5 separate regions of the Homo sapiens genome follow, and all the other regions are linked to region 5. The links come from fine-mapping of genetic effects on gene expression. A gene starts in region 5. Each other region holds a variant in brackets. All regions are shown on one strand. Distances are from middle to middle. Region 1 overlaps ZNF417 (zinc finger protein 417). Region 2 overlaps ZNF814 (zinc finger protein 814). Region 3 overlaps C19orf18 (chromosome 19 open reading frame 18). Region 4 overlaps LOC124904784 (a long non-coding RNA gene). Region 5 holds the start of ZNF418 (zinc finger protein 418).

Evidence for each region. PIP is the estimated chance that this variant, and not a neighbour inherited with it, causes the effect.
Region 1: its variant is the best candidate, but not a certain one, in a credible set for the expression of ZNF418 in whole blood (INTERVAL, PIP 0.60).
Region 2: its variant is the best candidate, but not a certain one, in a credible set for the expression of ZNF418 in whole blood (TOPMed, PIP 0.70).
Region 3: its variant is the best candidate, but not a certain one, in a credible set for the expression of ZNF418 in whole blood (TOPMed, PIP 0.89).
Region 4: its variant is the best candidate, but not a certain one, in a credible set for the expression of ZNF418 in whole blood (INTERVAL, PIP 0.73).

What each region holds. Positions count from the first base shown.
Region 1 is chr19:57,904,472-57,911,122 of GRCh38, reverse strand. ZNF417 (zinc finger protein 417) reads left to right here. Exons shown (of 3, transcript NM_152475.3): 3 at 1,009-5,349. The coding sequence ends at 2,573. It also overlaps a transcript of ZNF814 not described here. Among named protein-coding and RNA genes, the nearest start is that of ZNF417, 8.8 kb to the left of the region's middle. The variant C/T (reference allele first, on the strand shown) is at 3,311.
Region 2 is chr19:57,868,677-57,873,978 of GRCh38, reverse strand. ZNF814 (zinc finger protein 814) reads left to right here. Exons shown (of 3, transcript NM_001144989.2): 3 at 1-4,598. The coding sequence ends at 1,157. It also overlaps the pseudogene UBE2CP5. Among named protein-coding and RNA genes, the nearest start is that of ZNF814, 18 kb to the left of the region's middle. The variant C/TC (reference allele first, on the strand shown) is at 2,990.
Region 3 is chr19:57,960,570-57,967,220 of GRCh38, reverse strand. C19orf18 (chromosome 19 open reading frame 18) reads left to right here. Exons shown (of 6, transcript NM_152474.5): 4 at 589-691; 5 at 5,670-5,830. Among named protein-coding and RNA genes, the nearest start is that of C19orf18, 11 kb to the left of the region's middle. The variant A/G (reference allele first, on the strand shown) is at 3,138.
Region 4 is chr19:58,172,935-58,179,585 of GRCh38, reverse strand. LOC124904784 (a long non-coding RNA gene) reads right to left here. Exons shown (of 2, transcript XR_007067360.1): 2 at 1,997-3,049. Among named protein-coding and RNA genes, the nearest start is that of ZNF274, 6.8 kb to the left of the region's middle. The variant T/C (reference allele first, on the strand shown) is at 3,962.
Region 5 is chr19:57,932,200-57,938,850 of GRCh38, reverse strand. It overlaps ZNF418 (zinc finger protein 418), which reads left to right and starts at 3,449. Exons shown (of 6, transcript NM_133460.3): 1 at 3,449-3,690; 2 at 4,949-5,034. The coding sequence starts at 5,029. RefSeq lists enhancers at 3,482-3,571, 3,164-4,046.

The DNA.
Region 1 (6,651 bases), 28 kb after region 5:
CCATCCATGACCACCCTCTGCTGTGTTGTACTCATGTTTTCTTGGTCTTGACATATGCTTCTATATTTATATTTTTTGAGATGGAGTTTCGCTCTTGTTGCCCAAGCTGGAGTGCAATGGCACAATCTTGGCTCATTGCAACCTCTGCTTCCCAGGTTGAAGTGATTTTCCTGCCTCAGCCGCCCAAGTAGCTGGGATTACAGGCCTGCACCACCACACCTAGCTAATTTTTTCTTTTTTTAGTAGACACAGGGTTTCACCGTGTTAGCCAGGCTCGTCTCCAACTACTGAACTCAGGTTATCCACTTGCCTCACCCTTGCAAAGTGCTGGGATTACAGGCATGAGCCACCGCGCCCAGTCCATATGCTTCTACATAGCACTCACATGTCATTAGGAGATAAGGTCCCGTACACAACTTGTGTTTAGAGGAAGGAGCTGTGGACCCTGCCTCTACTCCCTGTGTTGCCTGTATGCTTGTGCTCTTTACATCATGAGGCCTCCTGGATTCTGTGACCTTTATAGCCCAGTAATGCTAGGCAGCTCATTCTTCTTTTTATTATTATTATTATTATTTTGAGATGGAGTCTCGCTCTGTTATCCAGGCTGCAGTGCAGTGGTGCGATCATGGCTCAATGCAAACCTCCACCTCCCGGGTTCAAATGATTCTCCTGCCTCAGCCTCCCGAGTGGCTGGGATTACAGGCGCTCACCACCACATCCAGCTAATTTTTGTATTTTTAGTAGAGATGGGTTTTCACCATGTTGGTCACGCTGGTCTCGAACTTCTGACCTCAGGTGATCCACCCGCCTCAGCCTCCCAAAGTGCTGGGATTACAGGCGTGAGCCACTGCGCCCGGCCAGCAGCCCCATCTTCAACTTGAAGCCAACATTGTGTTCCTGCAAATATTTCTATAGATTAATTCCTCAATTTGTGAGACGTACTTGTGGGTGGGCTGTGCCTTCCCGTCAGAGGTACTTTGCACTTGACCAGCATTTTCTTGCTCTCAGGTTGTTGGTGTGGATCAAAAGATGAGGAGGCACCTTGTAAGCAGAGAATTTCTGTACAAAGAGAGTCTCAGAGCAGGACTCCTAGGGCAGGTGTTTCTCCTAAGAAGGCTCACCCCTGTGAAATGTGTGGCCTCATCTTGGAGGATGTTTTTCACTTTGCTGACCACCAGGAAACTCATCACAAGCAGAAGCTGAACAGGAGTGGAGCATGTGGAAAAAACTTGGATGACACTGCATACCTTCATCAGCACCAGAAGCAGCATATTGGAGAGAAATTCTACAGAAAGAGTGTCAGAGAAGCATCGTTTGTAAAGAAACGTAAGCTCAGGGTGTCACAGGAGCCATTTGTCTTCCGCGAGTTTGGGAAGGACGTTCTGCCCAGTTCAGGATTGTGCCAAGAAGCAGCTGCTGTAGAGAAGACAGACAGTGAAACTATGCATGGCCCACCCTTTCAGGAGGGAAAAACTAATTACAGTTGTGGAAAACGCACAAAAGCCTTCAGCACCAAACACTCAGTTATTCCACACCAGAAACTTTTCACTAGAGATGGATGTTATGTGTGCAGTGATTGTGGAAAATCCTTTAGCAGATATGTCAGCTTCAGTAATCATCAGCGAGATCACACTGCAAAAGGACCTTATGATTGTGGAGAGTGTGGGAAATCTTATAGTCGAAAGAGCAGCCTTATTCAACATCAGCGAGTCCACACTGGAAAGACAGCTTATCCCTGTGAGGAGTGCGGGAAATCTTTTAGTCAGAAGGGCAGCCTTATTAGCCATCAGCGTGTTCACACTGGAGAAAGGCCTTATGAGTGTAGAGAATATGGGAAATCTTTTGGTCAAAAGGGTAACCTCATTCAACATCAGCAAGGTCACACTGGAGAGAGAGCTTATCACTGTGGGGAATGTGGGAAATCTTTTCGTCAGAAGTTCTGCTTTATTAACCATCAGCGTGTTCACACTGGAGAAAGGCCTTACAAGTGTGGAGAATGTGGAAAATCTTTTGGTCAAAAGGGCAACCTCGTTCAACATCAGCGAGGTCATACTGGAGAAAGGCCCTATGAGTGCAAGGAATGTGGGAAATCATTTAGGTACAGATCCCACCTCACTGAACACCAGAGACTTCACACTGGGGAAAGACCTTACAATTGTAGGGAATGTGGGAAATTATTTAACAGGAAGTATCATCTTCTCGTTCATGAGAGAGTTCACACTGGAGAAAGGCCATATGCGTGTGAGGTATGTGGGAAATTATTTGGTAATAAGAACTGCGTGACTATACATCAGAGGATTCACACTGGAGAAAGGCCGTATGAATGCAATGAATGTGGGAAATCATTTCTTTCCAGCTCTGCGCTTCATGTTCATAAAAGAGTTCATTCTGGACAAAAGCCTTATAAGTGCAGTGAATGTGGAAAATCCTTTGCTGAATGTTCCAGTCTCATTAAACACAGGAGAATTCACACTGGAGAAAGGCCTTATGAATGTACCAAATGTGGAAAAACATTTCAGCGAAGCTCTACCCTCCTTCATCATCAGAGTTCACACAGGAGAAAGGCCTTATGAGTGCAGTGAATATGGGAAATCGTTTGCTGAAACATCCCGTCTCATTAAACACAGGAGAGTTCATACTGGAGAAAGGCCTTATGAGTGCTGTCAATCTGGGAAACATCAGAATGTCTGCTCTCCTTGGTCTTAAGAGACTTCGCATTGGAACGGAGTCTCATTCTGTCACCCAGGCTGGAGTGCAGTGGTGCAATCTTGGCTCACTGCAACTTGGGCCTCCCAGGTTCAAGTGATTCTCCTACCTCAGCCTCCCAAGGAGCTGAGATTACGAGTACACCACACCATGCCCGGCCAAATACTTGGTTTTCAGTACCACAAGAGCTATGAGCTGGTTATCCACTTCATGTGGAATCATAAGTGTCCCCAAGTGACAATACGTATAGATTGCTGGGCAGTGAAACAGTTAAGATGTCACCGTAGCTTGCTTTCTATTCAACATCTTTCTAAGATTACCTTACTATTTCTTTTGTTCCAAGTTTGTATTTCCTCAGAGTTCTCACATATGGAAAGGATACACACTTTGTAGAAACAAGAACTTTATGTTATCCAAGTTCTGGGATAGCCATGAGCTCCAATTACCTCAGAGCTCCGAGTCCTCTACTCAGTACCCGTTGAGATTTATGTGTTCTGAGGCTTTTGTCTTCTAGCTACTTACTTCATTCTCCATGGGTAACGTCATTCATCCACATTAACTAATTTCCTCACTCCAAGCTCTTTTCTGGAGATAATCTCCAGTC[C/T]CTGTGCAGACACTGTCATTGCACTTTCTGCTGAAATGGTAGTTTCTTGCCAGCAAGGTGAGATTATGGAATCCAGAATCTTTTTTCAGGGGCCACATGCCCATTTCCCCACTTGCATGAATGTCGACACTGTAGCCACAGTTTTGGCCGTAAATGTGAATTTGGCAAGTAACCACTGTTCCCAAATTGGGAAATGTCCCAGTCAGAAGAAGATTATCTGGGACACTGATACTGACAGGGAGATGGGACATTCTGAGGGACCCGGAGGCAGGGAGCCACCTCCTCAGCTTCCCTGAGGGCTGCCTAGAATCTCTCTTGTTTCCTCTCACTCTGAATTATTCTTCCTCTCATGACTGACCAAACACATGGAACCTCACAAAGTCCATTTTAAGAGCTTTATCTTGTGAAGTGAAGAACATGAAGATAGTTTGAATCAAAGTTATTGAGTGGACACTTAATGTCTTTATAACATTTTTTACATATGTGTTTGTGTTTTTTGGGGAGCATAATTTGCAAATGGAATATCTGTTATTTTACTAAGATGCTTCATGGATACAAGAGTTAAAACTTCCTGTCCCATTTAGTGAAACAAAAGGTTAAGAAATGTGGATAAAGCTTGTAAGTTAGAAATGGCAAGATAATCAGCTATATGAAGAATCTCAGCTGGGTGTTTTGGCTCAGGCCTGTAATCCCAGCACTTTGGGAGGCTGAGGTGGGTGGCTTACAAGGTCAGGAGTTCAAGACCACCCTGGACAATATGGTGAAACCCTGTCTCTACTAAAAATACAAAAATTACCCAAGCATAGTGGTGGGTGCCTGTAGTCCCAGCTGCTTGGGAGGCTGAGGCAGGAGAATTCGTTAAACCTGGGAGGCATAGGTTGCAGTGAGCCGAGATTGCACCACTGCACTCCAGCCTGGTGACAGAGCGAGACTCCGTCTCAAAAAAAAAAAAAAAAAAAAAAAAAAATCTCAATCCCTAAATGTTACCTTTTATAACAGCAGGTTATATGGGCTTAGATATTATCCCTAAATTTTTTTTTTTTTTTTTTTTTGAGACAGAGTCTCACTCTGTCACCCAGGCTGAAGTGCAATGGCATGGTCTCGGCTCACTGCAACCTCCGCCTCCCAGGTTCAAGTGATTCTCTTGCCTCAGCCTCCCAAGTAGCTGGGCCTATAGGTTCCCTCCACCACGCCCACCTAATTTTTGTATTTTTAGTAGAGATGGGCTTTCACTACGTTAGCCAGGCTGGTCTCAAACTTGTGACCTCATGATCCACCCCCCTCAGCCTCCTAAAGTGCTGGGATTACAGGCATCTGCCACGGCACTCGGCTTATCCCTAGAAATCCTATGATAGCATGATGTATAGGCACCTAAAGGCATGGCACTTGAGAAATGTGAATAAGATTGTAAGTTACAAATAGCAAGGTACAGTCAGATGTTAACAGTCTCAGCCCCTAAATGTCACCTTGTATTACAGCATGTTATATAAGCACATACAGGCACATACATGAAATAGTGATACTTCATTCTCAGTAATATTTTTCATCCTTCTCACTGGAAAGATCTTTGATGATTTTTAATCAACATAGGAGTTTCAATGATATCTAGAAGTTTAAAAGGGCTCGTTCAAACAAATTATGACCATACACCCTGAAGAGTATGTGTCTGTCTCTTGTGGTGTAAATTTTTATTTTATTACACCCAATTATGTTCCCACAAAACCTTTATAATTGGGAAATTAAGGAGCCTTCCTCGGAAATGGAGGTTGCAATCAGCTGAGATGGTACCACTGCACTCTAGCCTGGGCAAAAGAGCAAGGCCCTGCCTCAAAAAAAACAAAACTTTTTTCTTCATAAACTACAGTTTATATAGGCAAAACTTTCAGTACTAAGCAATTTTAGTCTCTGCAGGCTCTTGTCTTGAATTAATACAACTTTTGTTAATTCTCTTATGAAGTTAAATCTTCCTGCTTGTATGCAACTTATATGTTGAAATTTTTTTGTACAAAAGATTCATACATCTTTCCTGTTTGAAATTATTTTACCGTGCTTCATCAATCTAATGTTTGTTATTTTTATTACACCAGTAATTTCCTCATTGTGTTGAATCTGAAAGTGGCATAGAAATTGATACGTACCTAGAAATGTTTAGCCAGTCGGTGTGTATTTGATGTAGCAATTTTTTCCTTTGAATCACATACTCTAAGAGAAGTAACTTCCTCTTGCTAACCTCTACTTTGCCTAAGTGATGAATTAATCCTCTTTAGATGATTATAGTTATCTTTTCAACACTTAGCAAGAAAGAATCTATAAAGAAGAACTATAAATCTGTAAAGAAGAACTTTCCCAGCCGGGCGCAGTGGCTTTGGTTCAGTGCTTCTCAGCCTTTTGGCTAAGATCAAGTGTGAGACGCAGTTTCACTCTTACTGCCCAGGCTGGAGTGCAATGGTGAAATCTTGGCTTACTGCAACCTCCGCCTCCCAGGTTCCAATGATTCTCCTGCCTCAACCTCCAGAGTAGCTGGGATTACAGGCACCCGCCACCACACCTGGCTACTTTTTTATATTTTTAGTAGTGACAGGGTTTCACCCTGTTGGTCAGGCTGGACTTGAACTCCTGACCTCAGGTGATCCACATGCCTCGGCCTCCCAAAGTGCTGGGATTATAGGCATGAGCCACTGCACCCAGCCCCCAGCATCATTTTCTTCAGAGAACATTCGAGGATTCTTCATGATGGCTGGGCTTTTTTTTTTTTTTTTTTTTTTGAGACGGAGTTTCACTCTTGTTGCCCAGGCTGGAGTGCAATGGCACAATCTTGGCTCACCACAACTTCTGCCCCCTGAGTTCAAGCAGTTCTGCCTCAGCCTCCCGAGTAGCTAGGATTATAGGCATGCACAATCACACCTGGCTAATTTTGTATTTTTAGTAGAGACGAGGTTTCTCCATGTTGATCAAGCTAGTCAGGAACGCTCGACCTCAGGTGATCCGCCCGCCTTGGCCTCCCAAAGTGCTGGGATTACAGGCGTGGGCCACCACTCCCGGCGATGCCTGGGCTTTCATTGGGTATTAAGTCTACAAACAGCACCTTCAATTTAAACTGTCAATTACAGTTCTTAAGATTTAGGAAGTGATGGAGCTTGGAAAGTTACGAGATTACAAAATCCGTGAAAGTCCATTAGAAAAACCACAAGATGGAAAAAAGTATAAACCAGGCCACAAAGAAGCTTCAGAGGTCCCTGCTGTCCCAGGGACAGATACCTGCAGTGTCCAGCATCTCAGTGAACATGACCTGCTTTCAAAGGCAGGGGCTTAAAGCGAGGGTGGCATGGGACCGGTGGAGG
Region 2 (5,302 bases), 64 kb after region 5:
AATCTTTCAGTCATAAGCGCAGCCTTGTTCACCATCAGCGAGTTCACAGTGGAGAAAGACCTTATCAGTGTGGAGAATGTGGGAAATCTTTCAGTCAAAAGGGCAACCTCGTTCTACACCAGCGAGTTCACACTGGAGCAAGACCTTATGAGTGTGGAGAATGTGGGAAATCATTTAGTTCAAAAGGACATCTTAGGAACCATCAGCAAATTCACACTGGGGACAGACTTTATGAGTGTGGAGAGTGTGGGAAATCTTTTAGTCATAAAGGCACCCTCATTCTACATCAGCGAGTTCACCCTAGAGAAAGATCTTATGGGTGTGGAGAATGTGGGAAATCTTTTAGTTCAATCGGGCACCTTAGGAGCCATCAGCGCGTTCATACTGGAGAGAGGCCTTATGAGTGTGGAGAATGTGGGAAATCTTTTAGTCATAAGCGCAGCCTTGTTCACCATCAGCGCATGCACACTGGAGAAAGACCTTACAAGTGTGGAGACTGTGGGAAATCTTTTAATGAAAAAGGACACCTTAGGAATCATCAGCGAGTTCACACTACAGAAAGACCTTTTAAGTGTGGGGAATGTGGGAAATGTTTTAGTCACAAGGGTAACCTCATTCTACACCAGCATGGCCATACTGGAGAAAGACCTTATGTATGTAGGGAATGTGGAAAATTATTTAAGAAGAAGTCTCACCTCCTTGTACACCAGAGAATTCACAATGGAGAAAAGCCATATGCTTGTGAAGCTTGTCAGAAATTTTTTAGAAACAAGTACCAACTCATTGCACATCAGAGAGTTCACACTGGAGAAAGGCCTTATGAATGCAATGATTGTGGAAAATCATTTACCCACAGCTCTACATTCTGTGTTCATAAGCGAATTCACACTGGAGAAAAGCCTTATGAGTGCAGTGAATGTGGAAAATCTTTCGCTGAAAGCTCCAGTTTCACAAAACACAAAAGAGTTCACACTGGAGAAAAGCCTTATGAGTGCAGTGAATGTGGAAAATCTTTTGCTGAAAGCTCCAGTCTCACTAAACACAAGAGAGTTCACACTGGAGAAAAGCCTTATAAATGTGAGAAATGTGGGAAATTATTTAACAAGAAGTCTCACCTCCTTGTACACCAGAGTTCACACTGGAGAAAAGCCATATGAGTGTGAGGATTGTCAGAAAGTTTTTAGCAAGAAGGACCACCTCATTGCACACCAGAGAGTTCACACTGGAGAAAGGCCATATGAATGCAGTGATTGTGGGAAGTCATCTACCCACAGCTCTGCATTCTGTGTTCATAAGAGAGTTCACACTGGTCACACCACCTTATGAGTGCAGTGAATGTGGGAAATCCTTTGCTGAAACTTTCAGTCTCATTAAACACAGGAGAGTTCACACTGGAGTAAGGTCTTGTGATTGCAGCAAATGTGGGAAAAAAGTTACCTGAAGGTCTTTTCTCCTTGAATATCAGAGAGTTCACACTAGACAAATAAAATACATTTGGGCAATTTTGTAGCCACACCTCTTTGCTCCTTCAAGATCAGAGTTAACACTGGATCAGGGCCTTACCAGTGTGACATGTGAGATATTTATGTAGAAATCTAGCTTCATAACACACAGGAGACTTCCCACTGCAGAAATGCCTTTTGAATGTAATGAATGCAAGAAAGCCTTCAGCCTTTTTATTGGAGCCTCAAACATTGACATGAGAAAAACACCATAGATGTATATGGAATGTTATTTCTTTTTCAATGTAACCCTTTGAGAGTGCCACCTACCTAGATTGAATGTCATTTATTGAGCATCTGCAAAAGTTCCAAGTGTGTGGCAGCTACAGTGCATTTTTCACTATACCCAGGTACCTTGCTAGATTTTTTTTGAGACAGGTTGTCACTGTGTCGCTCAGGATGGCGTGCAGTGGTGTGTTCACATTTCACTGCACCCTTGATCTGGGCTTAAGTGATTCTGTTGCCTCGGCCTCCTGAGTAGCTGAAACCACAGGCATGCACTACCATGCTCCACTAATTTTTTTAAGTTTTGGAGAGACAGGGTCTCACCATGTTGCCCAGGCTGGTCTTAAACTCCTGGCTCAAGCGATCCTTCCACCTTGGCCTCCAAACATGCTGGGATTACAGGTGTGAGTTACTGTGCCTGGCCTTTTTTTTTTTTTTTTTTAACTTTTAATTTCTGATCGAGTCACAGAAGGATTTGTTGAGTAGCTTCAGCACTTCTTCCTTTGTCATTTTTTTCTGTCTGATAAGTCATGCCATGGACGTTACCCATTTTTATCCCAGAGGCCTCTTACGTTGACTTGAAAAGACGGACTATGTCTTTCAGAGATCTTGTGGGTATCACATCAATCTTGACAAATTTTCTACCCTCCAAGTCATGATCCTAAGAACAGCTTGCCTCCCATTTCTCCGGTTTGTGCTATTATGAAGGCCTTATTGTTTCAGCCTTCTTCAATCTTGAGGGTTGTTGTCACTGTATGGGTGGTTCAGAAATAAGTAGGTCCTGTTACTATGAAGGGGGTCACAGCTTTTGTTGGCATAGCTAAACTTTGTGGCTCATGGAACAGTATGAATGCAGAATGTAGCTTTCTCCACTTGTGGACTGCTTTGCATAGCTGCCAGAGGCCTCCAGAGAAGACCTTCAGGGCTTTGTGGTCTTTATCTGTAGCACGGATACTAAAATTTGTGGGTTCATAGGTCAGCTGGATACAGGGCATTTTTTGTGACAATTTCTGGCATTTTTTGAACAAGACAAAATTCTTTTACGAGGTATATTGCATTGTACTTGGTACGGCTGAGGGAAGTCTGTTGCCCAGCTCTTGCAATGCAGACACATGCCCTGATATCCAGAATTCTGTAGGATAACATCACAGATTGTAATGCTATCAGGTGAAATTATAATTTTATAGAATTACTTTATTTATAGGCAGTGGAGGAGACAGAATAATGTAACTGCAACTCATGTCTTTTTTTTCTTTTTTTTT[C/TC]TTTTTTTTTGAGGCAGAGCCTCACCCTGTTGCCCAGGCTGGAGTGCAGTGGCATAATCTTGGCTCACGGCAACCTCTGCCTCCCAGGTTCAAACGATTCTCCTGCCTCAGCCTCCTGAGTAGCTGGGACTACAGGCACATGCCACCACACCCAGCTAATTTTTGTATTTTTAGTAGAGATGGGGTTTCACCATGTTGGCCAGGCTGGTCTCGAACTCCTGACCTTGTGATCTGCTGGCCTCAGCCTCCCAAAGTCCTGGGATTACAGGTGAGCCACCACGTGCAGCGTAATGCATGTCTTTTAAAAGGGCATCCACAATGATCCAGTCACTACGTATATGATGAATATGCAGATACAGGAATTATCAGGACTTCCATAATGATGAATATTGTATTGTTGAGGCCATTGTCAGAGGAAATAATCTAAAGGTTTTGTGAATTCCTGTACTCATTCTGGGCTGTTCTCCTCAAGGTCATTCCTGCATTAACAGGAGGAAGATGATAGGGAGAAGGGAGATCTCAGTTCAGTGATGTGGCCTTTGTGACCAGCCAGCCACTTAATCAGGTGGAAATGGCCTTAGTGCCACATCAATATTTGCTACCGTGGAGGCTAGTTTTCCCACTTAGGGCATGAGAAGAATTGGTGTAGTCAGTATAGAGTTGCCAAACCTGTTTTCCAAAAATAATGGTAAATCTATATTTTTCTTTTGAACTGCATTTTTTTAATTATTATTATTATTTATTTTGAGACGGAGTCTTGCTCTGTTGCCCAGGCTGGATGGAGTGCAGTGGCACGATCTCGGCTCACTGCAAGCTCTGCCTCCTGGGTTCACACCATTCTTCTGCCTCAGCCTCCCAAGTAGCTGGGACTACAGGTGCCCGCCACCATACCCAGCTAATTTTTTGTATCTTTACTAGAGATGGGGTTTCACCATGTTAACTAGGATGGTCTCGATCTCCTGACCTCGTGATCCGCCTGCCTTGGCCTCCCAAAGTGCTGGGATTATAGGCATGAGCCACCGTGCCCAACCTTTTTTTTTTTTTTTTGAGACAGAGTCTCACTGTCAGCCAGGCTGGAGTGCAGTGGCATGACCTTGGCTCATTGCAACCTCTACCTCCTAGGTTCAAGCAATTCTCCTGGCTCAGCCTCCCATGTAGGTGGGACTGGAAGCATGTGCCACCATGCCCGGCCAAGTTTTGTATTTTTAGTAGAGACGGAGTTTTGCCATGTTGGCCAGGCTGATCTTGGACTCCTGACCTCAGGTGATATGCCTGCCTCAGCCTCCCAGAGTGGTGGGAATACAGGTGTGAGCCACTGCTGCCAGTCTGAAGTATATTTTAAAGCTGTGATGAGTTATAAATGACATTCAGTAAGCTATGCATATTTAAGCTGTAGCATGTGATAAATCTTGAGTTTCATATAATCCCATGAAACCATTAACATAGTCACAATAATGAACTTAACACCTTTATATTTACTTGGAACCTTTTTATAAAGGCTTTCTTTCTGTTCTCCAGACAACCAATGATTTACTTTGCTGTACAGTAGAGTACTTTCCATTTTCTGGAATGTTAGATGAGTGATGTAATAAAGTGTTTCCTCTTATAATCCCTGGGTGCTCTCTCGTATCATTTTTTTTTTGTTTTTTAATGACCAAAATGTTTTCTTTTTGTCTTTTTTTTTTTTTTTTTTTTGAGATGGAGTCTTGCTCTGTGCCCAGCCTGGAGTGCAGTGGTGCAATCTCAGCTCACTGCAAGCTCCACCTCCCGGGTTCATGCCATTCTCCTGCCTCAGCCTCCCGAGCAGCTGGGACTATAGGCACCCGCCACCACGCCCGGCTAATTTTTTTGTATTTTTAGTAGAGACGAGGTTTCACCGTGTTAGGCAGGATGGTCTCGATCTCCTGACCTCACGATTCGCCTGCCTCGGCCTCCCAAAGTGCTGGGATTATAGGCTAGAGGCACCACACCCAGCCCAAAATGTATGTATTTAATATTCATCACAAGGGCTCCACCAAGGTTTAAATTAAAAGACAAAAGAAAAATAGTACCACAGCTCAAGATACAGAGTTCTACACAGAAATCACGGAAAGGGCAGACCATCTAAGGGAAAATTAAAAAGACAACACAAGGATAGGCTGGGCAGCCTGGGTCAGAGCTCCTGGCTGGTGACCTACTTTGAGTAGCTTTCTTGCAGGTACTTCCTTATTTTTATTTTTATTTTATTTTATTTTTTTTTGAGGCAGAGTTTCACTCTTGTTGCCCAGGCTGGAGTGCAATAGCGAGATCTCGGCTCACTGCAACCTCCACCTC
Region 3 (6,651 bases), 28 kb before region 5:
TTCTCACTCCCTCCTGAAACTGCTTCAGTTGTGTCCCCACCACACAGCTAATATGGCCTCTGCCCAGGTCTCTAGTGACCTCTTGGATGCCCAATCCCCAATGGTCTGTTTCAGTTTTCTTTCTTTTTTTTTTTTTTGAGACGGAGTTTCACACTGTTGCCCAGGCTGGAGTGCAGTGGCATGATCTCGGCTCACTGAAAATCTAACTTCAGTATTTTCTAAAATTAAGAGTCCTAGCCTGAGCAACGTGGCAAAATCCCATCTCTACAAAAACACAAAAAAATTAGGCAGGTGTGGTGGCGCATGCCTGTAGTGCCAGCTACTTGGGAGGCTGAGGCAGGAGAATTGCTCGGACCCGGGAGGCGAAAGTTGCGGTGAGCTGTGATCATGCACTGCACTCCAGCCTGGGTGATAGAGCGAGACTCAGTGTCAAAAAAGAAAACAAAACAAAAAAAAACAAAACAAGCTATTTTTGAAAGTGTTTCTGGTTTTGACTTCCATTCCCCTCTGTAAGGACAAATATATTAACTGAAAGACATAGCTAAAATGAACATTTTTGAGCACTTCTTTTCTTTTCTTTCTTTTTAGCAATAATTCGGCATAGACCTGCTCTTGTTAAAGTAATTTTAATTTCGAGCGTAGCCTTCAGCATTGCCCTGATATGTGGGATGGCAATCTCCTATATGATATAGTAAGTATCTGCTAAGTAATATCTGCTGTCCTTAAATGAGACATAACAAGTCAACTGATTATTATTTAATGTCAAAGGATGATGATGATACATCTTATAATTGCTAAAGTATTGGTCATTATAAATTTCCAGATTAGTGTTTTTCAACATGTGGATTGTACTCATGTTGAGGCATGATACACATGAAAAAAAAAGAAAGAAAGACACAGGACAGAATACAATTCAGCAGAATAGAAAATATTAGAAAATATTACGCCGGGCATGGTGGCTCACGCTTGTAATCCCAGCACTTTGGAAGGCCGAGGCGGGTGGATCATGAGGTCAGGAGATCGAGACCATCCTGGCTAACACGGTGAAACCCCGTATCTACTAAAAATACAAAAAATTAGCCGGGCGTGGTGGCGGGTGCCTGTAGTCCCGGCTCCTCGGGAGGCTGAGGCAGGAGAATGGTGTGAACCCGGGAGGCGGAGCTTGCAGTGAGCCGAGATCGTGCCACTGCACTCCAGCCTGAGTGACAGAGTGAGACTCGTCTGAAAAAAAAAAAAAGAAAAAGAAAAGAAAATATTACTTAAAGTATTAATGTAAAAGGCTGATTTTTAAACTTTTCAGATACATGTGAGACATGCACACACACACAGACACACGGTTGTGAAATAAAATATATTTCTTACTGGGAGTCATGATCAAAAATGCTTGAAAGACACAGTTTGAGATGCTAGCATCCTCCCAAAATTCAGTATTTTATTTTATTTTATTTTTTCTACTTTTTTTGGAGGGGAGGGGACGGAGTTTCGCTCTTGTTGCCCAGGCTAGAGTGTAATGGTATGGATCTTGGTTCACTGCAACCTCTGCCTCCTGGGTTCAAGCAATTCTCCTGCCTCAGCCTCCCAAGTAGCTGGGATTACTGCAGGCATACGCCACCATGCCAGGCTAATTTTGTATTTTTAGTAGTGATGGGGTTTCTCCATGTTGGTCAGGCTGGTCTCGAACTCCAGACCTCAGGTGATCCGCCTACCTTGGCCTCCCAGTGCTGGGATTAAAGGTGTGAGCCACCATTCCCAGACCCCAGAATTTGGTATTTTAAAATAAACTTGAGGCCGGGTGTGGTGGCTCATGCCTGTAATCCCAGCACTCTGGGAGGCTGAGGCGGGTACATCACCTGAGGTCAGGAGTTCAAGACTAGCCTGGCCAATATAGTGAAACCCCGTCTCTGCTAAAAATACAAAAATTAGCTGGGCGTAGTGGTGGGCACCTGTAATCCCAGCTACTTGGGAGGCTGGGGCAGGAAAATTGCTTGAACCTGGGAGGCAGAGGTTGCAGTGGGCAGAGATCACGCCATTGCAATTCAGCCTGGGCGACAAGAGCAAAACTCTGTCGCAAATAATAAATAAATAAATAAATAAATAAATAAAATAAAAAGAACTTGCTACTCTGGAAGGAATCTCAATAGTGCACAGCAGAAAAGAGCGACCACTCTCCCTTTCACTAGAAATGTGTCAGTGCAGTCTGGGGTGATAGCAGCTTTGGGGGAAGTTACATCACCGTCTTCGCAAATAAAGCTTGGGGTCAAGCTGTTTTGAGTGATGTAATCATTTTGAAATTCACGGTAGAAAAAGGTGAGACACACTGTGATCTCATGCGGTTCTGACCAAACCAACAGATTCTGACTCCTACTGTATGATTCCGTGCTAGGATTCCATTGTATCCCACCAGAAACAGCTTGAGAAGTACAAAATTGCTTGCTTCGTTGAATTAAGTGTGAAAACAAGATATATTGCCATGTGTGAGATATTTTCTGAGGCAGCTATGTTAAGACCACCTTGGAGTAGGTCACATGAAGGCAAAGTGACATTAAAGGTAAAAGGGGAATTTTGCTAATGAGAGCGTAACCTGCGTGCTTGGTTGTGGGTTATCTCCACTACATCCGCTTAATTTATGTAAATGTATAGGCCGGGGGCATTGGCTCACACTTGTGATCCCAACACTTTGGGAGGCCGAGGCGGGTGGATCCCTTAAGCTCAGGTGTTTGAGACCAGCGTGGGCAACATGGTGAAACCGCGTCTATACAAAAAATACAAAAATTAGCCAGGTGTGGTAGCACGCACCTGTAGTCCCAGCTACTCAAGAGGCTGAGGTGGGAGGATGGCTTGAGCCCTGGAGGTGGAAGTTGTAGTGAGCTGAGATTGCACCACTGCACTTCCTCCTGGGCGACAGAGTGAGACCATGTCTCAAAAACAAAAATTATGTAACTGTAGCTTCTGTATATTTCATTATTATAACAAAACTATTAATAAATATAAAGTTTTGTAATGCAACTCAGTAAAACATATCTCCTGGACACTCAGTGTTGAATTGAGTTGCTGAGCTAGTCAATTCTTATTGTTTTCACATTTGTATTAGCACTAAGCTATAGTGGAGCCTGGGGCCAAAACCAAAACCAAAACGA[A/G]AACAAACAAAAAAAACAAAACCACCTGTTCAAAAGTACAAGTTTTATGTAATTTTTAGTGGTTCATTTTTTCCAGAAGTAGATTTTGAAAATACTATTGGTAAGTTTGCTTTTATTTAAACCAGGAAAGTAAAATTACAATTAATTTTGTTTAGGGTAGAGATAAAATATTTATTTTTATTTTTATTTTTTTAGAGACGGAGTCTTGCTCTGTTGCCCAGGCTGGAGTGCAGTGGCGTCATCTCAGCTCACTGCAAGCCCCGCCTCCCAGGTTCACGCCATTCTCCTGCCTCAGCCTCCCAAGTAGCTGGGACTACAGGCACCCGCCACCACGCCCGGCTAATTTTTTTTTGTATTTTTATTAGAGACGGGGTTTCACCATGTTACCCAGGATGGTCTCAATCTCCTGACCTCGTGATCCGCCCGCCTCGGACTCCCAAAGTGCTGGGATTACAGGCGTGAGCCACTGTGCTTGGCCTAGATAAAATATTTAAACTTAATGTTGTGACTTTTCATACACCAGTTTTCAATTATTAAATATATTCTGAACTTCTTAAGTGTTTTGGAAAAGAATAAGCATTTAAAAATACATTAAAACGTGTATAGGGACTCACACCTTTCCTTTTGACTCAAGCTCCCCTGTGGTTTAGCACAGCACTGTTTGGATCCTATCTCTGTTTACAATCTTGATATTTGGTATATCCTGGATTTTGTTTTTTTTGCTTCATTTCAATTTTTAAAAATACTGAGTTAAGGACCGGGCGCGGTGGCTCACGCCTGTAATCCCAGCACTTTGGGAGGCCGAGGTGGGCGGGTCACCTGAGGTTGGGAGTTCGAGACCAGCCTGACCAACATGGAGAAACCCCATCTGTACTAAAAATACAAAAAAATTAGCCAGGCATGGTGGCACATGCCTGTAATCCCAGCTACTCGGGAGGCTGAGACAGGAGAATCACTTGAACCTGGGAGGTGGAGGTTGTGGTGAGCCAAGATCGCGCCATTGCACTCCAGCCTGGGCAAAAAGAGTGAAACTCCATCTGCAAAAAAAAAAAAAAAAATTGAGTTAAAATACTCATCTTCATTTTTCACTGTTTGGGGTACCTCCTTACATTTCGCACTGAGGCGAGCACCTCCCTTTTGTCACTCAAATCTTGCTCCTGTCCCAGCCTTTTGAGCAAGAAAAACAAAAAATAAACTAACCCTAAAAGTTTTTTGTTTTTTTTTTTGAGATGGAGTTTCACTCTTGTTGGCCAGGCTGGAGTGCAATGGCACCATCTCAGCTCATTGCAACCTCCGCCTCCCAGGTTCAAGTGATTCTCCTGCCTCAGCCTCCCAAGTAGCTGGGATTACAAGCATGTGCCACCACGCCCTGCTAATTTTGTATTTTTTTAGTACAGACGGGGTTTCTCCATGTTGGTCAGGCTGGCCTCCAACTCCTGACCTCAGGTAATCTGCCCGCCTCGGCCTACCAAAGTGCTGGGATTACTGGCGTGAGCCACCGCGCCTGGCCCCTAAAAGTATTTTTTTAATATATAATTCACACAGTACTGGGAAGGTAAGTATGTTAGGAAAACACTGTCATCCATTTCCACACCAAACAGAAATAGCTGTTCAGTGATCCACTTCCAGGATTGGACCTACAGTGAGGTAGAAAAATCAGTAACACCCATTCTGTCCTATTTTGTTCATCACGGATTTCTTGACATTAATTTTTATTTTGTAAAATATTACACTGAAACATGATTATGGCCGGGCACAGTGGCTCACACCTGTAATTCCAGTGTTTTGGGAGGCCAAGGAGGAAAGACAGCTTGAGCCTAGGAGTTTGAGACCATCCTGGGCAACATAGCAAGACGCAATTTCTAAAAAAAAAAATACAAAAATAATTAGCCGGGCATGGTGCCACGAGCCTGTGGTCCCAGCTACTTAGGAGGCTGAGCAGGTAAGACTGTTTGAACCCAGGAGTTGGCAGCTGCAGTGAACCATGATTGTATCAGTTCACTTCTAGCCTGGGTGACAGAATGAGACCCTGTTCCAAAGAGAGAAAGAGAGAGAGAAAGAGAAAGGGAGAGATACAGAGAGAGAAAGGGAAAGAGAAAGGGAGAGAGAGAGAGAAAGGGAAAGAAAAAGGAAAGAAAAGAAGGGAGGGAGGAAGGAAAGAGAGGAAAGAAGAAAGAAAAAGGAAAAAAAAGAGAAAGAAAAAGAGAAGAGAAAGGAATGGAAAGAAAGATGATTTGTTTGATTATGGATTTTTTGTCAACACCTTAAGTTTGGAACCCAATGTGAGTGCCTTGTTCACGTCTAGTCCTGGCTTTGATCCATGCTTTGGGATGATCGGAGTTACTCCTTACTCCAGGAAATGGCCTGACCATGTAGACAGTTGAGAGCTGACCATGATTAGTCTGGTTTCAAAGTCTTATGTCTGCACCCACTCCACAAGCGACTCCTTTCCTGTCAAAAAGTGGCATGGTTGAGAAATGAATTATTCATCATGAAAACTGTGCTTCTAAATTCATTTATATCATTCTCCAGTCGACTGGCACAGGCTGAGGAAAGACAACAGCTCGAGTCACTTTATAAGAACCTCAGGATACCGTTATTAGGAGATGAAGAAGAGGGCTCAGAGGACGAGGGTGAGTCCACGCACCTACTTCCAGAGAACGAAAATGAGCTGGAAAAGTTCATCCACTCAGGTAGTGTGACCTGTAAGAGCTATTCGCAGGAAAGCCAAGCTGGCAGCGGCAGCTTGCGTTTCTTTTCTTTCTTTCTCAGCGGTGGCTTGCATTTCTTTTCTTTCTTTCTTTCCTTTCTTTCTTTCTTCCTTCCTTTCTTTCTTTCATTTTTTTTTTAAGACGGACTCTTACTCTGTAGCCCAGGCTGGAGTGCAGTGGCGCGATCTCTGCTCACTGCAAGCTCCGCCTCCCAGATTCACGCCATTCTCCTGCCTCAGCCTCCCGAGTAGCTGGGAGTACAGGCGCCCGCCACCATGCCCGGCTAATTTTTTGTATTTTTAGTAGAGACGGGGTTTCACCATTTTAGCCAGGATGGTCTCGGAAGGCAGCTATGCTCACCACTATACCACCAACGCTCGGGTGCCAGGATGGTCTCGATCTCCTGACCTCGTGATCCGCCCGCCTCGGCCTCCCAAAGTGCTGGGATTACAGGCGTGAGCCACCGCGCCTGGCCTGTGGCTTGGTTTTCAAAGGCAAAGATAAGTGGGAGTTAAGGGAGTTTGAAGTAAGAGAGACAAATATTCACAGCCACACTTACGGAAATGAACCTTTCTCATCAAATCTTACAGAGGGGTGAACAGCTGTGGGGTTGCTCAGTTCCTTTTGCAGGGCAATTCCACGGATCTAACAGAGTTCAGGAAACAAACTTTTCCCAGCACAAAACATGTTTCCGTTAAACATACTCATTACCGTGATGTTATCCTGCATTCAGAACACAGACACGCAGATGTTTCACCTGCACCATCTGTCTCCATCTGACGTGAAAATGGGATCCAGACCCA
Region 4 (6,651 bases), 240 kb before region 5:
GCCTCCCGGGTTCTAGCGGTTCTCCTGCGTCATTCTCCCTAATAGCTGAGATTACAGGCAGATGCCACGACGCCCAGCTAATTTTTATATTTTTAGTAGAGACAGGGTTTCACCATGTTGGTCAGGCTAGTTTCGAACTTCTGACCTCAGGTGATCTGCCCATTTTGGCCTCCCAAAGTGCTGGGATTACAGGAGTGAGCCACTGCCCCTGGCCCCATATGCTTTTTTAAATCAATGGTCTACTGTTGGTTTAAATTAAACAACATATGGCCGGGCGCAGTGGCTCACGCCTGTAATCCCAGCACTTTGGGAGGCCAAGGTGGGCAGATCATGAGGTCAGGAGATCGAGACCATCCTGGCTAACATGGTGAAACCCCGTCTCTACTAAAAATACAAAAATTAGCCGAGCATGGTGGCGGGCGCCTGTAGTCCCCGCTACTCGGGAGGCTGAGACAGGAGAATGGCATGATCCCAGGAGGTGGAGCTTTCAGTGAGCCGAGTTTGTGCCACTGCCTTCCAGCCTGGGTGACACAGCGAGACTCCATCTCAAAATAAATAAATGAATAAATAAATAATAAATAAACAACATATGACTAAGAATAAAATATGTAAAGCTATAAGTTGGCCCAAACCATTATGGCAGCTGGACCATTATGGCAGCTAGTGGTGTTCAACTGAGTCCTAAGCCAGCTGTGCAACTGAATCATGGACCCAGGATTTGATCTCCACTCATCATTCTCTGTCTCTGTTTCATCACACAGAGCATCTCAAATTGTTCCATGTAAAGGGGGATACATTTTAAAATCATTTTTAAAAAGAAGAAAGATGTGTCTTTCCATCTTTGAAATGTGAGCTTTGAGGACACCTCTCTGAACTTCTGAGAGCTTGGGAATGTAAGGTTACAGAAGTATGGATAAATTAATGTGCATTTGAACTATAAATTATTAATATCATAGCTTTTTTCCCAGAAAAGAGGCTCTTTGGTTACTGCTGCTCATTCATTCTTTGCCTGTTTTCCCCAACATCAAAGGTAAACTCACCATCAAGATAATCCACACTGGACATAACACATGGGGGAAAGGCTAAGAATTTGGGCTCTGAGCAGAGGCCGATCACAAACAACCTCCAGAAAACGGCCTGCCTCAAAGAGGAATGCAGGAAGTCCACAGAATGCCGGACAAACCAGTGAGGCAGGTTTGGAATAATCTAGTACATGCCTTTGCACCCTGTATCCGTTAAGGCATGTTTGGTTGGAAATAAATAAAAACCCAAATAACCAACGCCGTTTTCCCACAAAGAAAATCTGCAAGTATAGGTCTTTTCTGGTGCTGGTTAAGCTGCCCACTGAAGTCACGGAGGATGAGGCTCACTCTTTCCCTCTTGCTGTCCTTAGTGTGGGGCATCTTTTCTTTAGGCCATTAGGATGTAGACAAGGAACAAGCCAGCCACACACCTCCTGCTAGTCCTGAACACAACCCATCTCAATATTTCCTGCCTTAGGAAATCGACCTTTTCTTCTCTGATGAGAACTGACTCCTGTCTCTCTTCTTGAGTCTTTTTCTTGTTTATTCCTCCATTCAATAACCGTGGAGGATACACACATCGAAAATGACAGAAATCTGCTCTCAGCAATGCTGAACATTTTCCAGATATTCTTGTTACTACAAATAAAGTATGAGGCCAGGCTCATACCTATAATCCCAGCACTTTGGGAGGCCAAGGCGGGAGGGTCACTTGAGCTCAGGAGTTCAAGACCAGCCTGAGCAACGTAGCAAAACCTCATCTGTATTAAAGCAAAAAATGTAGCTGGATGTGGTGACACACTCCTGTAGTCTTAGCTACACAAGAGGCTGAAGTAGGAGGATCATGAGCTAAGGAAGTTGAAGCTGCAGTGAGCCCTGATTATGCCACTGCACTCCAGCCTGGGCGACAGAGCTTGACCTTGTCTTAATAAATCAATCAATCTGATATGAAATAGACCTGAGTGCTGTAATGATTGGGAAAGGAAACCTAAAAATGCATTTATTAACATTAACATACTTTAAAAACCCAATTGAAAACTTTAAAAATCAAGATTACAATAAGCTAGGCAGAATACAAAAGATGGACAAATCAACACCACAAAGCAATGCACAAAATCTATACCTGCAACAAGTATATTGAAATGGAGGTTCCTGTCACAATAGAATCATAAAAACAAAATGTCTGAAATTAGTTTGTTGGGAAATGTGAAGATAAGTTTTGGAAGAATTACAAGTAAACTTACATAAATGAAAATGCTTATCAAGTTCAAGGATAGATGGCCAATGAGTAAAGTGTCAGTTACCCAAATTCATCACTAGATACAATGAAAGAGCACATAGGATTATAACAGAGCCTTTTGGGAGGCTTGACCCTTGAACTTTCTTTTGTGCTTCCTCCTCCTCCAGTGTGAGAAAGAACTGATTGCTATTCTTCACATAACCAATTGGCTTCAAACTCATCTTAAGGAGAAACGCCTGCAGAAATGACTAGTTCAGGCATGTTCTTTGCTTTTGCCAATAAATTTGGACTTCAGAGCCATCAATAGCATACAGTTCTTATCACGGAGTTATTTAGGGGCCATGGCGAGGAAATCATTTTGTGGTTCAGCAAGTTGGCACAGTTTATTTTGAATGGAAGTGTGTGATTAATTCTGGGCACCTATTTTCACCCAGAGAGGACCCATGCCACACTCTATGAACAGAGAAAGAGAGACAGCATCCACATCTGCATGGATCACTTGAGTCCACCACATCCCAGAGTGTGCTTCCATGTCACACTCTTGGACTTGTGGAATATCTCCTTTCCATCGTTGCAGCCCCTTGGCTGTGCCTCTGAGGCTACCAGGCCCTTCCTTCTGACTGCAGTGGCCTCTGCTCTGCATGAGATGTCTGCCTTGCAGGAAGTGTCTCTGAGTCAGGGCAGCAGGGGCCATCCTGAGCCAGCAGAACTGGTTACCTGTGATGGCTGCTCCTAGGAGTCCCCAAACTGTGGCTTAGCATGACCAAACGAGACTTGAGAGCAAAAGCTGGTGGGGAGCAAGAAAGGGTTATCATGTAAGGTGTAGTTTTGGCAGAAGTGACAGTATGCCACCATTCATGATCTTAAATTTCACTGACTGGGCACAGTGGCTCACATCTGTAATCCCAGCACTTTGGGAGGCTGAGGTGGGTGGACTGCTTGAGGTCAGGAGTTCAAGACCAGCCTGGCTGATATGGTAAAAACCTTTCTCTACTAAAAATACAAAAATTAGCCAGGTGTGATGATGCATGCCTGTAATCCCAGCTTCTTGGGAGGCTGAGGCATAAGAATTAATTGAACCCAGGAGGCAGAGGTTGTAGTGAGCTGAGATTACACCACTGCACTCCAGCCTGGGTGAGAAAGCAAGACTGACTCAAAAAAAATGTTTGTTTGTTTGTTTTTCATTAAGTCCAGGCTGGGCACAGTGGCTCATGCCTGTAATCCCAACACTGTGAGACCAAGGTGGGAGGACTGCTTGAGCCCAGGAGTTCAAAACCAGCCTGGGGAACATACTTGCCCAGTTTTTTGTGTGAGATTCCATCCCTACGAAAACAAAACACTAGTTGCGTGTGGTGGTGTACACCTGTAATCCAGGTACTCGGGAGGCTGAGGTGGGAGGTTCGCCTGAGCCTGGGAAGTTGAGGCTGTAGTCGCACCACTACACTCCAGAGACTCTGTCTCAGCACAAATAAAACTAAAAATTACAAAATAAAAAATGTAATTAAATCCAGATGTAAGGGCTTCTACGGTTGACCCCTGGGCTCAAGTATGAGCTGTAACCAGTCACTGTCCCTCCTTTGGCTCAGCCCTCCCCAGTGTATGGCCTTGGTTCTTTCTGAGGCACACGTCTTTGCAGTCCTAAGATGGTGATTACAGTTCCAAGTCTAGCATTTAGCCGTGCAACATTTGGCTGAAGAAG[T/C]TGGCATCAGGAAGTGTATTTGCTTTCTATTGCCACTGTAGCAAATTACCAAAACTTTGTGTCTTAAAACAACAACAAATTTATTGTCTCACAGCTCTGGAGGTCAGAAGTCCAAAATGGGTCTTACTAGGCTAAAATAAAGATGTCAGCAGGACTGTGGTCCTTCTGGGGGGTCTAGGAGAGAATCCATTTCTTTGCCTTTTCCAGTTTCTAGAGACTACCTGCCTTCCTTGGCTTATGGCCCCTTCCTCCAATTTTAAAGCCAGCAGTGTAGCATTTTCAAATCTCTCATTCCATCATCACATCATCTACTCTGATTCCTGCCTCAAGTTATACAAAGACATTTGATTAAATAGGGCCCGCCCCAAGTAATTCAGAATAATCTCCCCATCTCAAGAATCTGGCCAGGCATGGTGGCTCATACCTGTAATCCCAACACTTCGGGAGGCTGAGGCAGGAAGATTGCTTGAGCCAAGGAGTTTGAGACTGGTCTGGGCAACAGAGCAAGACCGTGTCTTAACAACAACAAAAATAGCTGGGTGTGGTGGCATGCATCTGTGGTCCCAGCTACTCAGGAAGCTGAGGCAGGAGGATCGCTTGAGCCCAGGAGTTCCAGGCTACAGTGAGCCATGATCACACCACTGCACTCCAGCCTGGGTGACAGAGTGAGACCCTGTCTCTAAAACAAAAACAGATCCTTAATGGCATCTTCAATGTCCCCTTTGCCATGCGAAGGTAACATATGTATAGGTTCCAGGGTTTGGAATGAGGACATCTCTGAAGGAAAGGGGGCATTACTCTCCCTACCACAAAGAAGTAATACAACATTTTGGCCGGACGCAGTGGCTCACGCCTGTAATCCCAGCACTTTGGGAGGCTGAGGCGGGCAGATCACGAGGTCAGGCATTCGAGAACAGCCTGGTCAACACGGTGAAACCCCTTCTCTACTAAAAATACAAAAAATTAGCCGGGTGTGGTGGTGCGCGCCTGTAGTCCGAGCTACACAGGAGGCTGAGGCAGAAGAATCGCTTGAACCTGGGAGATGGAGGTTGCAGTGAGCCGAGATCGCGACACTGCACTCCAGCCTGGGCAACAGAGTGAGACTTTGTCTCAAAAAAAAAAAAAAAAAAAAAGTAATACAACATTTTCGGAAGACTTCTCTGTTGTTGACTCGCTCTGACCCTGTTAGCCAGGATTGACACATGCATCCATGTCCTGGCTGGGAGAAAAGCTGGAAAAGAGTGTAACTGGTTTTTTTGGCATCTGTAGAAGGCGCCAGACTGTGCTGCAATGAAGGTGGGTGGCACAGCCACAGTAGCTGGCACAAAAGTCTGCTTGGGTGGAGCCCATCTACCCCAGAGACCTCTCCTCACATTAAGTTATAAGGCCACAAACCAGATCCGGATGGAAGTTTCCGGACTTGCTGCCAGCAAAGATCTGGAACTGAGGGTCAACAGCTCATGCCTGCAATCCCAGCACTTTAGGAGGCTGAGGCAGGAGGATCACTTGAGGCCAGGAGTTAAAGACCAGCCTGGGCAACATAGTGAGACTCCATCTCTACCAAAAAAATTTAAAAATTAGCTGGGCATGGTGACATGTGCCTGTAATCCCAACTACTCAGGAGTCTTAGGTGCGAGGATTTCTCGAGCCCGGGAGATTAAGGCTGCAGTGAGTTATGATCAGGCCACTGCACTCCAGCCTGGGCAACAGAGTGAGACCCTGTCTCCTAAAAAAAAAAAAAAATGGAACTGAGTGAAGTCCCAACATCCAGGGAGCAGCTACCAGGACATGGGGACCCTGGTGGAGGATTGAATGGGGTGCTGGAAGGGAAAGATGGCATTTCGCTCAGGTAAGGGAGAAGTGTGAGCTCTCCCTTGGGTATAGGAGGGAAGCCAGAATTTCAAAACGTGACAGAGAGAGAGAGACAGAGAGACAGATTGTGAAATTGAGAGAAAAGTCTTTTTCACGTGAGGCTGCGCGGTGGCTCACGTCTGTAATCCCAGCACTTTTGGAGGCTGAGGTGGGCAAATCACCTGAGGTCGGGAGTTTCAGACCAGCCTGACCAACGTGGAGAAACCCCATCTCTACTAAAAATACAAAATTAGCCAGGCGTGGTGGCACATGACTGTAATCCCAGCTACTGGAGAGGCTGAGCAGGAGAATCACTTGAACCCGGGAGGCAGAGGTTGTGGTGAGCTGAGATCGCGCCATTGCACTCTAGCCTGGGCAATGCCCATCAAAAAAGAGTGAAACGCCATCTCAAAAAAAAAGAAAAAAAAAGATTCATTTGTGAGACCTTTCCACTCATCCCTTTCCTCAGATACACCCCAGAACACCCTCAGAACACCCCAGATACCCTTTTGGGCAGCTATGGGTGAAGCTGCCCCTCAATCTCAGCTCCAGTGGATGGCCCACTGGCCTCATTCTGTCTCCGTTGCTGCAGTGATTAATCCAGGGGCATGCAAGCACTCTGGTCCAAGCCAGTCAGTGCAAGGCACCCTCCTGTCCATGACAAGTGTCAAAGCAATGAACATGGACGGAGAGTGAAGCCCAGGACTTTGATTAAAAGTTAGGAGAGTGTGTTTGGCTGAAAAATGTCCCCCAAAGATGTCAGGCCTGAATTCTTGGAACCTATGAATGTTGCGTTATGTAGAGACAGGGGCTGCATATGTATTTAAAGATCTTGAGAG
Region 5 (6,651 bases):
ATTTCCCAGATAGTGATGAGTGTGTTTTAATATATTTTTGACCGTTTGTATGTTGTCTTTTGAAAAATGCCTATTCAGATCGTTTGACATTTTTAAATTGGATTGTTTGAGGGTTTCTTTGCTGTTGAAATACTTCAGTTGCTTGTGTATTGTATTCTGGCTCTATTTTTTTTTGAGACGGAGTTGCTCTGTTGTCCACGCTGGAGTGCAGTGGCACGATTTCAGCTCACTGCAACCTCTGCCTCCCGGGTTCAAGCAATTCTCCTGCCTCAGCCTCCCGAGTAGCTGGGATTACAGATGTGCGCCACCACACCCACCTAATTTTTGTATTTTTAGTAGAGACGGGTTTTTGCCATGTTGGCTAGGCTGGTCTCAAACTCCTGACCTCAAGTGATCTGCCCACCTTAGGCTCCCAAAGTGCTGGGATTGCAGGCATGGCCACTGCATCTGGCCTCTTTCTTGATTCTTGATTACACTGTCACTGAGTGGGTTCTACATCAGAAAAAGATGAATAGGCCAGGTGTAGTGGCCGAATCCTATAATGCCAGCACTTAGGGAGGCCGAGGCAGGAGGATTGCTTGAACTCAGGAGTTTGATACCAGCCTGGGCAACATGGCAAAACCACATCTCTCAAAAATTAGCTGGTTGTGGTGGTGCATGCCTATAGTCCCAATTACTCCTGAATGCTGAGATGGGAGGATCACTTGAGCCTGAGAGGTTGAGACTGCAGTTGAGCCTTGATCATGCCACTGCGCTTCAGCCTTGGCAACAGAGTGAGACGCTGTCTCAAAAAGGGGAGAAAAAAATAGAATGTGGAGATAAGCAGATTTCAAATGTGAAGTGAAAAAGAAGCTTTTCATTGTTCAAACCATATTGCTAAGTGAGAAAAAGTACAGATGTGTATAGAATCTATGACTTTTTTCCTATAAGATGAAAAACTTGTAACATAATTGACACACAGAATAATGAAGAAAGGGAGACACAATTCTATGAGGATAATACTATACTGCAGATTTCACCTTCTGTTTTTACTTATTCATTAAATTATTTATTTGGAGACAGAGTCTTGCTCTGCTGCCCAGGCTGGCCTCAAACTCCTTTGCAGAAGTGATCCTCCCTCTAAGCCTCCCAAGTAGGTAGGTGAACAGGCACAATTTTTCTCCACCTTGGTATTGTTCAATGTTTTTAATAAAGAAAAAAAAATCTCAATGACAAAACCAACAAGGGGGACATTTTTAATCACATGCTGACCTTAATTCCATCTCTTCGTAGACATCACTGTTAAAACTTCTGGGCCGGGCGAGGTGGCTCACACCTGTAGTCCCAGCACTTTGGGAGGCCACCTCGGGTGGATCACCTGAGGTGAGGAGTTTGCGGCCAGCCTGGCCAAAATGGTGAAACCTTGTGTCTACTGAAAATACAAAAATTAGCTGAGTGTGGTGGCAGGCACCTGTAATCCCAGCTACTTGGGAGGCTGAGGCAGGAGAATGAATTGCTTGACCCAGGAGGAGGAGGTTGCAGTGAGCTGAAACTGTGCCATTGTACTCCAGCCTGGACAACAAGAGTGAAACTCCTTCTCAAAACAAACAAACAAACAAACAAACACCTGTAAAGTCAGCTGGGAGCAGTGACTTATGCCTGTAATGTCAGCATTGTGGGAGAAGGAGGCAGGCAGGTCAGAGGTCAAGAGTTTGAGACCAGTCTGGCCAACATGGTGAAACCTTGTCTCTACTAAAAATACAAAAATTAGCTGGGCGTGGTGGCAGGCATCTGTTATCCCAGCTACTTGGGAGACTGAGGCAGGAGAATCGCTTGAACCCGGGAGGTGGAGGTTGCAGTGAGCCAAGATGGCGCCACTGCACTCCAGTCTGGGACAGAACGAGACTTTGTCTCAAAAAAAAAAAAAAAAAAAAAGAAAGAAAAACTTCTGTGAAGTGTAAATTTTTTTCACCATCCACTCATGTTTCAATTGACCTATTTCTGTCATCGCAGTTATTAGATAGTCGTTGGTAATAAGTTTCTGTAACTGGCATTTCACCTGTTTTTCTGGTATCATATTAGTTCCTCATGCAGAACACTCCCCGCTGTCACAAGAGAAACAAATGATAATCACTTCCCAGGAAAGATAACAAGCTCGATAATTTAACATACGCCTAGTGTCTCCAGGTGGAGATTATCACCACCATTACCAATACCAAGCTGAGATTTCTCTTTCATTGTTCTTTACCTGAGACTGACTTCAAGTTCCTAAAATGAGTTGAAAATATAAGTTAGAATACCAAGTAAGGGATATTACATGAATAAATGTTTTGCTGAATGAATTGGACACAATAATTGACTATATAAGCAGGAGAGTTGTTTTTCCATGGGAACGACTGATTGACCTTTGTACTCTTTCTTTAGCCTCTCCTCTATCTTCCTTGGCATGGTCCTATCTGGATTAGTTCTCTTTTGTCCCTGGCAGACTGAAAAACCAACTCTAATGCCTCAGAGTGAGGCAGGAGAATAGGGAATTAGGGTAACCAAGAATGAAGGCATAAGCAAAAGAACAGCAGGTGCAGCTAGTTCTAGGCAAGATGAGGCAGCACACAGGCCACGTCCTCACTCCTGTGGTAACAAGACAGAAGTCTCCACTTCAGCCTCTGATTGGTTGTGCACCAGTCCTTCATAGGATTGGAGGCCTTTAAAGAACTCTTGGGGTATTATAAAATTCTAGCTTATTCATGGCAAAAACCGCAATTACTTTTGCACCAACCTAATAAAACCCTAAAAAACATTGTAATCGGGGTTCTTGAGCCGCTTGGTCGCCTGCTCCCACACCTACATTCCACTTCTGTGGAGTGTACTTTCCCCTCAATAAATCTGCGCTTTCATTGGTCCGTTCTTTCGTTGCTTTTTTTGTGTGTTTTGTTCACTTCTTTGTTCAATGCGCCAACAACTGGACAACTCACAGCCAAGACATTCTATCCGGTAACAAGAGTGCATTCATGTGAATTATAACAGAGTAATGTTTATCAGCCTCTGCTTCCAGTGCAAGCATTCTGTGTCTAAACGATTGTATAAAGTGATACACGAATTTGGATTTGTAGCCTTTGGGGGCCTTCACAGTATTTTTAGCGCCTGGGAGCTTGAATTTACAGAAATGTGAATTAATATTTTTGCAAACACTTAGGTGGTCAGTTACAAACAGGGATTCCCCAGGAATCTCAATATGGCCTCTAAGGAGGGGCGAGACCATCCTCTGCCCTAAAAGGGTACGCGCTTTAATGAACCCCCTGAGGTAGGGCTGGGACTTCCCTGCAGAAGCGCCTTTGGGAAGCGGCAGCTTTACTACCTTGGAACCTGGGGAACTACATTACCCAGAAAGCTCTACATTGAATGACAGCGCAACAGAACCAGTAAGGGCTCAGAATAAAGGCGTTTCTGTGTGCGCACGTAACGTAGTGGCGGGATTCTCAGCGTTCTCTGGTAGCGACCATTTTGGTTAATGTTGGGTGTGTTTCTGCGGTTTGTGAGGTGAGAGGCGCTGGAGCTATGGGTCCGAACCGCGGTGTCTGAACCCAGAAGGTGAAGAGTCCTTCTTGCTGCACAGAGGCAGATCTTAGGCCCCGTAACGGCGCCCGCCGCTCCCGGCAGTGCTTTCCCCGCGTACTCGGGATGGCGGCGGCCGCGCTGAGGCTCCCGGCTCAGGTAATTGTGCCTTCCCTGCCCTCAGGTCACCTCATCCTAACCCGAATCCTGAAGCAGCGAGAGAGCGGCGACTGTTCACAGGTCTGCAGCCCGGACCCGGCGTCGGGACACTGAGGCGTTCGCGGGAGAGGTCCTTGTTTCTGACACCTGTGGGATGCGGTGGGGAGAGCGACAGGCACAGGGACCGGCGCGGGCTATGGCCTGGAGGACAGACCCGGGAGGATGGAACCTGGGGTCCACAGGCGCCTGTAGGGAACAACGTGTGAGGCGAAGCTTCTCCTGGAAGAGCAGGCTGGGGGCTGTGTATTCGCTGTGAAGACGCTAGAAGCCATGGAGAGTTTCGAAGAAAGGAGGGATGCGATCCAAGTCCAGGCTTTTAAGGTTTCCCAAAGGCCAAAGGAAGAACATAGTAGAGGAGATGAGGACCTTAGGGTTCTGGGAGGTTGACTCCTTTGTTGATAGATCACATAGGTGGTAGAGATGACATTTTGCACTGAGACACGCAGGTCAACCAGTCTGAGGTCACCTGGCTCCAGCGATAAGAAAAGGTTCAAGGAGACCTGAGCTTATCAGATCCCCTTTGTAACGTCTGCTTTCCCCTCAGACACTCCTGGCTACAAAAGCACGTAAAGAACCCACTGAGGGGGTCGGGCAAGGTGGCTCCCACCTGTAATCCCAGCACTTTGGGAGGCCGAGGCGGGCGGATCACCTGAGGTCGGGAGTTCGAGACCAGCCTGACCAACATGGAGAAACCCCGTCTCTAACAAAAATACAAAATTAGCCAGGCGTGGTGATGCCGCATGACTGTAATCCCAGCTACTCAGAGGCTAAGGCAGGAGAATTGCTTGAACTCGGGAGGCAGAGGTTGCGGTGAGCCATTGCACTCCGGCCTGGGCAACAAGAGCGAAACTCTGGCTCAAAAAAAGGAACCCACAGAGGGAATTAGAGGGTGTTCCATTCCCTCACTGGCCTTATTCCCCATTCACATGTTCTCTAGCTTGTGATGTCCTGGGACTCTTACTTGCCATTTTTTCAGTCCTTTGATCTGAGAACACTGGAGAAACCCTAAACCCAGAATCCTAAGTCCATGACACAGGATGTATGGAGGTATTCCCATTTCTGTCAACCCATGTAAACATACTTTGAAGGTTAACTACAGAGTTGGTACCAGGTCATGAAATGCTTAGAGGTAAAAATTCGGTGGGGAGGCAAGAGGGCGGCGAGGAGGTGATGTTACCACAGTCCCATTTGTCTGCAGGCATCATCTGGCTGCAAAGAAGAGAACACACTGTGTTTGAGGGAGGAGGAAGGAGGATCAGAGTTTAAACTCCTGCCATAATGCAGGTGAGGGTTACTGGACCATATTAATGAGTAAGGAGCTGTGGCTGGATTCAAGATTCACAGTTTGTAAAATGGCAACTAGATTTTCCTTTTTTTTTTGAGCGGGAGTCTCGCTCTATCGCCCAGGCTGGAGTGCAGTGGCACGATCTTGGCTCATTGCAAGCTCTGCCTCCCGGGTTCACGCCATTCTCCTGCCTCAACCTCCCGAGTAGCTGGGACTACAGGCGCCCGTCACCATGCTCAGCTAATTTTTTGGATTTTTTAGTAGAGACGGTTTCACTGTGTTAGCCAGGATAGTCTCAATCTCCTGACCTCGTGATCCATCGGCCTCGGCCTCCCAAAGTGCTGGGATTACAGGCATGAGCCACCAAGCCCGGCCATGCCCGGCTAATTTTTAATATTTTTAGTAGAGATGGGGTTTCACCGTGTTAGCCAGATGGTCTTGATCTCCTGACCTCGTGATCTACCCGTCTCGGCCTCCCAAAGTGCTGGGATTACAGGCGTGAGCCACCAAGCCCGGTCGGTAACTAGATTTTCTAATAGACTGTGAGGGCATGAAAGGGGAATCAGGTATGACCACCAGGTTTTTGGTCTTAGCATCTGCAGTGATGGAAGCTGCATCAACTGAGATGAGCACATAGTAGGTATAATATTCATTGGGGATGTGAAGAATGTTGTTTTGACCATGTTAAGAGTCTGAGATAGTTTAGCCTCCATTATGACATTGACACACTTCAAATTTTCATGGTAAATCTTTTGTGGGGGCCAGGAAGGGGTGGTTGCAGGCTGAGGGCTGAATTTCTTGCTTGGGTCCCTGGCTGACATTGCCACAGGAGAAGGAGGCAAGGGCTCATGAAGATAGGGTATGTCAGACAACATGGTTTGTCAGGGGGCATAGGCTTTCCAAGGGTAGAATAGATAAGAGATGTAAGCAGAAGCATAGAAATAATTGAAGGAAGATGACACTTGGGCCAAGGCTGGTACTTATTCACCACTCTGTGGACTCACCAAGATTTTGAGAAAACTTTGTTGGTGCTTGGGGGTTTTCATTCGGCCTGGTGGATACATGCTCAGGGTAAATTTGGTTATCTGTGACAGACATTGGGCCTGGGGTGGACAGCTGATGGGCTGGGATTTTATTTATTTTTTTCTTTTGTTTTCCACTTTTCTTAGACCATTCTCCATAACAAGGGAGTGGGATTTAAATGACTCTAGGTGGACAGAGGAAAGTCGTCATTGTAGAGGGGTCACCAAGTGCAACACAGAAGTGGAATAGGGCCATGGATATCTAAAGCCCCACCTGGTTCTGTGGGGATGTGGAGCCATGCAAGAAGGCCTTCATAGAATGACTTGGGACTGCATTGCTATTGGGAGCCATGAGAATTCTGTGGTAATATTGGATCCTGTTTGAATTTGCCAAGCATACTCTGAATTCTGTCAGCCACATTGTGGCATAAGGCCGAAAATGAAAGGCCAATGTGATGTGCAACGTTGGTGTGTGGTGATACTGTATGACCTCAAATGGCCTGAGCACAAATCCCCTTCCCACTCTGTTCTATTGGATAATGTATCCTGGCCTAACAACCCTTTTCATTAAGGGATCAGGCACAGTTTCTGGTT